2 separate regions of the Homo sapiens genome follow, and region 2 is linked to region 1. Evidence: fine-mapped expression QTL. A gene starts in region 1. The other region holds a variant in brackets. All regions are shown on one strand. Distances are between the middles of the regions.

Region 1 (5,384 bases):
AACACTTCCTACTTGCTAGGCATTGGTCTAAGCCTGCAATATCCAAGAAGGCAGACACTTGTCACATGTAGCTGCTTAAATTTTTTAAATTTCAACTAAAGTAAAAACAATTAAAACTTCAGTTTCTCTGTGTCATGAGTCAATTTCAAGTGCTTAATAGCTCTCTGTGGCCACTGAACTGGATAGCCCAGAAAACATTTCATCATCACTGAAAGTTCTATTAGATCTTGCTGTCTGAGAGCATCTTATGTTTTTAATCTTGTTTAACCTTCATAGCAACCCTATGATGCAGGTGTAATTATGTATCCACTTTAGAGATAAGGACCCTGAGACACAGACTGGTTAAAAAACTTACCCAAGGTCTCTCACCAGATTCATATCCAGAGTGAGGATTCAAGCTCAGATATTTGGCTCTAGGGCCTACCATGCAGAGCTGTCCCCTACCCCAAGCTCTCTTGCTCTCCCGTCTCGCCTCCGGAACTGGAATGACTTATCCTGTTCCCCAAAGGCCATTGTCCCTGACTACTGCCGCCCTGACAACTGACTCTTTGAGTGATGAGAGCACCTGGGCCTGGAGCCTCTTCTGGATGAGGATCCACACTCTATTTTCATCCCACCTCCTTTTAGCCCCTGAATTCCCTTAGAGTATTAGTGTTAGTATCATGGGTTTTAATATCTCCACTAACCCATCCCATTCTCAGTTCAAGGTCAGCCTGAGTCCTGGAAGATTCCAAACCTGGGCAGCAGCCCTGTTGCTGTTCCCTGAGGGTCACCTTCATCCCCAAGGGAACAACATGCAGCCAGCTCAGCTCAGGCTCAGCTCACCAACACCTTTGAAGGTGCAACAGCATCTCACTCTGCAGGGGAAGTGCGAAAAGTCAGATGCAGTTCACACTCTCATGCCGCTAGAACCCGGTAGAAGTTGCCAGGGCAGAGGCTTCATCCGTTCTGTGTGCAAACCACAAATGTTTGCAAGCTAGACCACTTGCGGTTATCCCCTCTGTCTCCTGCCCCAGCTGCTGCCCTGCAGGGACTCCACACACCCACAGGACCTGCAGCTGAACGAAGTTGAAGACAACTCAGGAGATCTGTTGGAAAGAGAACGATAGAGGAAAATATATGAATGTTGCCATCTTTAGGTGAGTGGACAAGATTTCTACTTCCTACTTTACTTCCTCACTACTTTTCCCTCTTTCCTAAACAACTGAGTCACCGAAAAAAATGCCTGGCAGTGTCAAATTAGTTTCCCACTTCCACTGAGTCAGACAATCTAGGGCAAGAAAACTTAGAAAATTCTCTCTGTCCATTCCTGGCCTCAGCAATAGGCACATCAAATTCCATCAGACTATGTAGAACTTCTCACTTAAAGATTTCCAGGAAGAACTTTACTGTCAGAAAATGCTTAGCCAGGCATGGTGGTGCATGCCTGTAATCCCAGCTACATGGGAGGCTGAGGCAGGAAAATCACTTGAACCTGGGAGGCGGAGGTTGCAGTGAGCCAAGATTACACTCCAGCCTGGGCAACAGAGCAAGACTCCTTCTCAATAAAAAAAAGAAAAAAGAAAGAAAAGAAACAAGAAAATGAAAATGCTTCCTAGTATTTTGCCTGACTCTGTGTTTCACCGTGAACTCCCATGTTCTGTCCACAGAGGAGATGAGAATGTGTGACCTCTTTTTCTGTTGAGGGAACATTGAATAATTTCCAGTTTTTATCTATTACAAATGATGCTGCTATGAGCACTCTTGTATATGTTTTTTCAGGCTTATATGTATACATTTCTGTTTGACATTTACCCAGGAGTGAAAATGCTGAGCCATCAGGGATCCCTGTGTTTAGTTTTGGTAGATTCTGCCAAGCCATTTTCTAGTGACTGTACCAATTTATATTCCCACTAGTGGTGTACAAGAGTTCTAGTTTCTTCACATCCTCACCAATACTCAGTAGAGGATTGCATGGGGAGGGTCACGGGCTCCCCCAGACCCAGCTCAGTCTCAGCTGGTATCACTCCCTTATTCTTATGGAAGGTGTAGTGGTATCTTATTATGGTTTAAATTTGCATTTCCACGGTGATTTATGATGTCTAGCTCCTTTTGCTATGTTGATTTGACACGTGGATATCTGCTTCTGTGAAGTACCTATCCAATTATTTTTGCCCATTTTTCTAGTATGTTGTCTGTCCTTTTCTTACTGACTTGCAGAAATTCTTATATTTCTTCTGTGGGCCCTTTGTCAGCTACATGTATTTAAACTATCTCATCACACCACAGCTTGCCTGTTCCTTCTCTTAATGGTGTCTTTTAAGGAATAGTTCTCAAAATCATACTGACAGTCTTAAAAGCCTCAGATGCCGAAGCTCCATCTGTGTTCTACTCCAGACTCATCGATGTCTGATTCCCTCCTGAACTGAGGATCCTGTGAAGCATCCTCAGGGCTCCACTTCTCCATCGCATTGCAGCATCCACACACATTTACCTCTGGAGACAGGAGCTCCTTGGAAGCTGGGAGGTCACTCGGTGGTCAAGGGGTAGATGATCTTAGTTTTACAGTGCTGCGCTGTCTCCCAGGCTGAATGACGCTGAAGCCAAGCAAATTCGGGCAGTCTCTGGACCTTTCTAATGGAGGTGTCCCATAACCATGTTCCATCCTAGTTCCCTGGCATAGGCTTGTTGAAGCTGCAGAAAATGTCAGGGATTTATTAGTGATTTACCGACTCCTTCATACTTAGTGTTCAGGAAAATTTATTCATGTAATACTTCTTCAACCAAAGAGGAAATATCAATTAGAGCTTTGTAAGTTTCTTTTCCACTTCCTATTTTGGCTATCAAGCTATAGCACCACCCAGCTCAGGCCACCCACCCACCTTCGGTCCTGAGGCCTGGTTGCTCTCTGCCGGCTTCGCCCTGACCTGTTTCTGACCTGTGTTCCCTCCGCTGTGCCAGAACAGGCCCCATGCTGCTCTGGACGGCTGTGCTGCTCTTTGGTAAGTCAACGAGCATGGGCATCCCCTCTTGGAGCACTAAGGACCGTAAGTCATCCCTGAGACACCAAGTTCCTCATCTTACCTTTCCCAATTCCAGTGGGTTTGTGGCTGGAGCTCAAGACAGGTGTGTGCACCTGGGCATGCTTGGGAGAGATGGGCACTGGGGTAGGAGAAACTCCTCAGTGTTTCCTACCCCGTAGTCCTGGGTCCTTGGCAGCGCAGCCCTTTGATATGTCAGAGATAAATTAGGGAGGCAGAAAATCACATTACAAAGTCCCCTAACTTCCCAATGACATTTCTACCTTGTGACATCAGGTTAAAATACTAATCAGAGCTGTCTCAAAAGGAAATGGAGGTTGCAGGAGGGAAGGAGGCTGCTGGGGGCAACAGGGAAGGAGTCAGGGAAATGAGGGGAAACAGTCCCAGGCATTTTGCTCAGCAATGGGAGGTGGAATTTTACAGGGTGACATATTTTTATGGAGCCTCAGCATTTTCTTAGAACCAGGTAACAATGGCCAGACCTCTCACCTGGTTGAAAGGCCTGTGCTCTGAGTAACCAAAGCCCTTTTCAAATTGACTGTCTCTCTTCCGCCTACATCTTCTCTCTGTTGGGAGCTGTTTCAGATCCATGGGGCTGGTTTGAAGAATCAACTCCATTGTCTGATCCATGTCTCTCTCTCTCTTCTCTCCATTTCTTCTCATGCAGGCTACTTGTAACTAAGAGAGCTGGTCTAAGGGTAGAGGATTGCACGCAGAGGGTCACTGGGCTCCCCCAGACCCAGCTCAGTCTCAGCCAGTGTCACCCCCCTTATACCTAAAAGAAATAATTTGGCATATATTTTGTTTCACTTTACAGTTTCCAAGTGGACCTACTTTTTGTTTAATTCTTGGTCCCAATAGCTTGCTTGCTATTTGTATTCCTTGAACTAGAAAAGCAAAACTGTTCCTAAATATAACCTCTTCCTGGACAGAGTTTGTGAGAATTTGACCCTGTGAGGAAAATGCCCCTTCCACTCAATGTTCCTTCTCCAGCATAGCATGCTACTCGTGTGTTCTATGAATGGCCATTTGGACAAATGAAAAGGTCTAATGCTCACACTGAGGCGGGGACAGGATAGCCTAATGCCTGGATATACTCCAGGCAGAAGACTCCCAGGGGCAAATGGCACTACCGGCACTACCTTGTAAAAGGAACAGCCCTTGGACTTGTCTAGATACAGTCTGAGAGTGTTCCAGCTTGGAACCCAGGACGAGGATGACAGACAGCAAATGAGGAGAGGAAGGGAATCAGTGACCGGCTGACTGGTGCACAGTGTAATGGAGAATCCAGCACCAGCAAATTTGGTCCCACTTGATGCTCAGGGACCCTGGAAAAACAGCCTAAAACACAGACACTGGGGCTGGGTGTGTAGCAACATTTATCTTACCATAAGTGTAGAGCTGCTATTTCCTCTCTCAAGAGCAGGGTGTGGTCATAATAAATTGGTGGCTATTACTATTATTGGCTGTCAGGGCTCCGGGAGGAAAGGAATCCTGACATTGAGCATGTGGGGACCTGGCTGAATGTGAAATATGTATTTAAAGTTTGGGAAATTAGGCTTAATTTTCTTCTGAGCTGAACATTAGCCAACTTCCCTCCTACCACTGGAGGCTGCTCCCCGCATTCTCACACAGCGTCCATAGGAGGTGTCATGGGGTCCCATACAGCCCTCCCAGCAATGTGACTGCTGCAGCTTGGCACTGCAGCCTGTTCCACAGTGCTAGAGCTCAGTGGTGAGAGAGTTCTTCATGTTGAGCCGAAATCTGCCTCCATGATCCCTCTAGTTTCCATTTCTGTCCTATAAAGTAACTCAGAATAAGTCTCCCCCTTCTTTTAAGCTTAGCCCACCAAGTATTTTGTGTCTTTCCTCTGTTGCATCTTTCCCAGATAAATATCTCCCGATCCCTCAGAAACTTTAAGAGGAAATTATCCTGCTCCTAGAGTTGGCAGGGGCTCCTGCCTTCATTTTTCGGAATTCTATTACGCAACTTGGTTTGACCATAGCTCTTGGCCACTTCATGATACTGTCACCTCATCTTCAGCCTATAGCTAATGGAGGTCCCTGGGCCCTCATTGCAGGAACTGCTGTAAGCAGGTGTCACCCCCTGTGTATGTTCCCAGTTGGCTGCTGTTTTGATTGCAGAAACCAATTTTGTAATCCCACCTCCAAGATCTTGCAGTACCATGGGGAGCAAGTCATTGAGATTTGGGGACAGGAGCTCATTTTAAGTGCATCTATGCTTCCTGAGTGCCTTCTGTCTTGTTTTTGGCTTCAGTAGTCTCAACCCTGTTTGTTTAGCACTTTGTAGCTGCACAATTGTTTTCCAGTGAGGTGGGGAAGGGAAGGAAGACATAACTACAGA
Region 2 (5,384 bases), 30 kb before region 1:
CCAAATCTACAAGTTAATTAAGTACATTTTTTATCTTCCAAGTTTCTGAAGATGACAGTGTTGCCAGTTATTCTACTACTATATAATGTGATTTGCCCTTTATCAGCCTCCAGTAGCAGTTTCCTCTCAGGTCCTCAGGCTCCACTAATAATCTACTCGCTGCACCTACTGCCTCTTCCAGCCACTCAACCCCAAAGCCAATGCCACATAGTTTAGCTTTTTGTTACAGCAACATACCATTTCTGGGTATAAATTTTTATATCTGGCCGGGCACGTTGGCTCACGACTGTAATCCCAGAACTTTGGGAGGCCGAGGCAGGCGGATCACCTGAGATCAGGAGTTCGAGACCAGCCTGGCCAACATGACAAAACCCTGTCTCTAATAAAAATACAAAAATTAGCCAGTCATGGTGGCAGACGCCTGTAATCCCAGCTACTCAGGAGGCTGAGGCAGGATAATCGGATAATCACTTGAATCTGGAGAGTGGAGGTTGCAGTGAGCTGGGATCGCGCCACTATCTCAGCCTGGGCCACAGCAAGACTCCATCTCAAAAAAAAAAAAAAAAAAAAAAAATATATATATATATATATATATATATATATATATATATATATATATATATATATATAAAATCAGTTTTCCATTCCTATGAAGTAAATGACCATATATATATATATATATACACACACACATATATAGAGAGAGATAGATATAGATATAGATATAGATCAGTTTTCCATTCCTATGAAGTAAATGACCCCAAAATTTAGTGGCTTAACAGCAATTTCTATTTCTCATGATTCTGTGAGTTAGCTGGGTCACTCTTCTACTGGTCATACCTAGGATCATTCATGCAGCTGCATCCAGCTTGGGGACTGGGCTCAACTGGCCTCTCCTACCATACGGTATATAATTCAGGGCTTCTTTATAGCATAAAGGTCTTAGGGTTCCAAGATGACAAGACCCAACATGCAAGTGCTTATCATACCTCTGCTTCTATCACATTTGTTTTATTTTATTTCATTTTATTTTATTTTATTTTATTTTATTTTATTTTATTTTATTTTATTTTATTTTTTGAGATGGAGTTTCACTCTTGTTGCCCAGGCTGGAGAGCAGTGGTACAGTCTTGGCTCACTGCAACCTCTGCCTCCCGGTTTCAAGCAATTCTCCTGCCTCAGCCTCCCAAGTAGCTGGGATTACAGGCATGTGCCATCACGCCCGGCTAATTTTGTATTTTTAGTAGAGATGGGGTTTCACCATGTTGGTCAGGCTAGTCTCAAACTCCTGATCTCAAGTGATCCACCTGCCTTGGCCTCCCAAAGTGCTGAAATTACAGGCATGAGCCACCGCGTCTGGCCCACATTTGTTTATATCACGTTAGCCAAAGCAAGTACAAGGCTGAGTCCAGTACAAATGTAGGAGAGGCATGTATAAGGGTGTGGATACTAGGAGGTGTAATCCATTCAGGTCATTGCTATAACAATCTGCTCCAAAACCAAAATGTAAGTTTCATGCTTTTATCTGCATCTTTAGTCAAGTATATAGCCCAATATTTTGTTCACTTGGACTTAATTGGCATGTTTGTTTAATTGAATTAAAGAGGTAGAAAGTTTTAGAAACACAAGGACCAGAAAGGCTGAAACTATTATAGTTTTGGAAAGCCAAAAGACTATAGAGCAAAGCTAACCATTAAAAAACATTTTCTCACCATTTTTCCATATTCTTGTGAATCAAATATGTTTTCTGACCAAAGGGATTTAGGGTATCATAATTTTCAAATAAATGACTGACTCATCAACCTTGTCTCTGTTATGGTCATAGCTATTCCAGAAATAAATTCCATGTGAATTTGCAAATTTTCTCATCCTAAATAACTGTTTGAACATCTGAATAATCACACAATGTAGATTCCTCCGTATTTGCACAAGAGAAAAAGAATTAAATAGAATTACTGGCATTTCAAACCCAGTATTTGAATTTTGCTAAGATTAGACGCTAGACTTGATTTGTCTTTCCCATCTGAGGATATAGGTATATTTAGTTTTTCACTAAAATAAAGAGAATCATGGCTGTGTTTTAATGGCCTCAAAGGTTCTTTTCCTAACAGTCATTTTCTCCAGAAGAGGTTGAGGTTTTTCATCAACAGTAGTGGATAATGATGAGCACATTTTGAAACTGACTAATGATTAATGATATCTTCCTTTCAAGGATTGATAGACCATAAAACTCTGCACTAAAGGACACATTCTTCCCTTGCTACCAATTTTGAGTCTAAGAATCCAGGTATGTTTGCACTATTTTTTCCCATGAAGCAGAATATCCCATCAAAGTGTAACAAGGGGATTCACTGAGAACTCAATTTGCATGTGGTGGTTTTTTTATTTTGTTCTGTTCTGTTTTGTCTATTTGCTTGCTTGTAATACAACTACCCCTCTGCCTAAGTTTCCAGTTCTAGCAAATGATGTTCCTACCCCAACGTAGGGGACAGGAGGGGTTCCTGAACCTATTTTTTGGGACCAGATGGGGCCAGTAATGCATTCTCTATTTGAAACTCCTGCTACCAATTGGTCCTGATAAGTATGTGCAGCCTATTGTGATGCTGATGATAACAATAGCCAGTGTTTATTGATCCCTCACTGTGCCAAGCATTGTTCAAAGCACTTTATAGTATTAACTCATTTAATCGTCACAATTCTCTGAGGTAGGCATTATGATTTATTTCTACTTTATAGAGAAGGGCACTGAGGTGTAAAGCAATTTATTCGGGGTTAAATAGTTTCAAATGGCAGAGCCAGGATTTGAACCCACCACCAACTCTATTGCTTCAAAGACGCTGGGCTCAAGCAGAATTCAGAATTTTTTCCTACATCTGTGTCCTTGGGACTGTATCCTCAGTAGGAAGTCACTGATACTCACAGGCTTCGATGTTAGTTGACCTATCTGACTTTCTGATGCTTTGCACAAATTGTTAATAGAAAGGCAATTATCAATGACATCTCAGCCTAGATTGTCTCCTTGATTGTTGGGGAGACTATATTATCCTAGAATCCAAATGGGATTTCTACCC[A/G]GGCCACTATCTGTGCTGATATGTCATGGCCTCCAACCCCACAAAGCTTGAACTCTCATGTGCCACGTGCCCTCCCTAGTCACCACCACCATGTCCCACCCTTACACACAGTCAATCCAAATGTGTTTCCTGAGGGTGTACTGTATGTCAGGCTCATAGTATACACAGAAGATAGACCCACATACTGGGAGCTTTCATTCCCAACAGCCCAGACTTCCAATTTGAGAAACATGATTACTTTGGGGAAACACCAACCTGGAAGTCATTGGTGGGGAGAAATGTTTTAGGAAAGATTCAGACTAAACCACCTTTGTAGTCCCTTCCAACCCCACCCCCATCCTCTTAATTTCTCTGTAAGGCAAGCATTTATTAGTTTGATTTCAACACACACACTTGTACCTGTAATTACTATATAATGTCTGTTTACTTTTTTAAATGAAAATGAATTTAAATTAATCTTGTTTTGTGAATTTCAAGTCACCCCCTGAGATAAATGAAGACACTCCAGGGTGTCATCAAACCAGTGCTGGGAATCCTACTCTACAAAGTAGAGAAGAGAGCTCATTAAACCTCGAAGGAGCCAGAGGGGAGACATGTATATAGACATAGAGCACACTAAAAAGAGAGTTTTATATGTGCATTATACACACACACAAATACACGTGAAAGGTGGTACACCAAAATGTGGTTATCTTTAGGTGACTTGTTCCTCGTAAACTTAATATGAATGCCATTCATGACTAAGCTCTCTGCACCAGAGAGGAGATCCTGGGAGCAACATTTCCAAAATCCTTCCCATAGATCTTGAGTGCCAATGAGAGGCACCTGTGTAAGATCTGGAACGAAAAGAGAGACCATCGTTTGCCAGAGATAGGTAAGTGCAGAGGCAGATGAGAGGCTGAAAACAGCGTCCAGGTGAATTTCTTGGGATCCCCCCACATGAGTGCTGGAGTCTGAGATCATTGGTGGGAATTTCCCGGAAGTTCCTGAGACTTACAGTGGAATTGCTTCCAGGCAAGATCTTAAAGAGAATCTCATTTAGATGTTACCAGCTCAGATCATCTGGTACCTTTGCTACTCAGCCCACCTGCCAGGTATGTAAACCTTGAATTTCTCATATTGCTTCCTTTCATACTAGGAGAGCATAGAATGGCTTCTCCTTTCCTAATCAAACACCAACTAATATAAATAGGTAATAGGTGATGATTTTTAACATTTTGCATGTGTATGTGTTTTAATGCTTTTACAATAAACATATTATAATATAGCAATAAAAGCTTTAATATGTGTTTAATATATAATGTCATAAATATTCTAATACACATGCTGCAGAAGCTCAGAAGAGGGACACAAAACATGAATTGGAGCAGGGAAAGCTTCCTAGAGAAAGTGGTCTCTTTTCCCAAAGTGAAACTTAAGGAAGTTGAGATGTTGCTGCAGGCCAAAGGTAAGAGCAGGGCAGGAAAAAGGCACAGCATGGGCACAGGCACATAGGAGAGCTCTGCTCCTCTGACTGACTACACATTGTTCATTGTGACAAGACAAACACTTCTGCAGAGGAATGAGGTAAGGTGAGGCTGAAGGAAAAAGCAAGAGGCCTCATCCTGGAGGGCTTGATATACCAGTCTATAAATCTTGGGGGTTTGTTCTTGAAGACAATAAGGAGTTATTGAAGAACTGGAAAAGTAACATCCATGCTCTGTAAAAGTCTCTGCAGGTTCACAGAGGGGAAATGTGTAGAGGCCGGAATACAGGAGGCCAGTCCAGGGATCCACAGAGATGATGGGTCCTAAGGAGGTTTTGGGGGATGGGATTTGGGTGGGAAGAAGGTCTGCTACAGAGGGGAAAGGAGGGCTTGTGTGAAAAAAGGTTGTCCATGGTGCCTTCTTTCCCCTAAGCTACAGGGAGGCTAGAGACATTTAAATTGGAGGATAATGACTGGGGCACTTTTTGCCTTGCCTGGAAACTAACGTAAAGGTAGGTAGAGTAGGAAGCAATGTTTCAAGCATTCCTCTAGAAAGGAAATCTGGAAACCAAGCCCTTCCTTGGAACAAAAAACAGGAAAGGTACATGTACATTAAGCCTGTTTTTCTTGGACATCTTTCTAACCCGTAGATAAAGCCAATGTGTTGTTCTAATCCAGGATTCTTAGGTGGTTCTAATTGACCTCAAGTTTTCACCCAGGCCAGTTAGGCCCCTTTGAGGCCTCTCCCTCTGCTGATCAGCTCCTCCACCCATATCCCTGCTCAGCTAAAACTTCTCAGCTCCAGAGAAGAGACACCTGGAGATCAACTCACTACCTCTGTGACCAGA

Alleles and levels. Alleles are on the strand shown, and positions count from the first base shown. SD is a standard deviation of normalised expression in the study named.
For the expression in subcutaneous fat of the gene that starts at base 2,886 in region 1, allele A in region 2 goes with a lower level than allele G (small effect, 0.36 SD a copy in GTEx).

The links. PIP is the estimated chance that this variant, and not a neighbour inherited with it, causes the effect.
Region 2: its variant is the best candidate, but not a certain one, in a credible set for the expression of FCRL6 in subcutaneous fat (GTEx, PIP 0.83).

Annotation. Positions count from the first base shown.
Region 1 is chr1:159,799,475-159,804,858 of GRCh38, forward strand. FCRL6 (Fc receptor like 6) reads left to right here and starts at 2,886. Exons shown (of 10, transcript NM_001004310.3): 1 at 2,886-2,981. The coding sequence starts at 2,951. LOC105371464 (a long non-coding RNA gene) reads right to left here. Exons shown (of 3, transcript XR_922195.2): 1 at 3,064-5,384; 2 at 2,474-2,673; 3 at 1,007-1,088.
Region 2 is chr1:159,769,478-159,774,861 of GRCh38, forward strand. No RefSeq gene overlaps it. Among named protein-coding and RNA genes, the nearest start is that of DUSP23, 8.8 kb to the right of the region's middle. RefSeq lists an enhancer at 1-59. The variant A/G (reference allele first, on the strand shown) is at 3,072.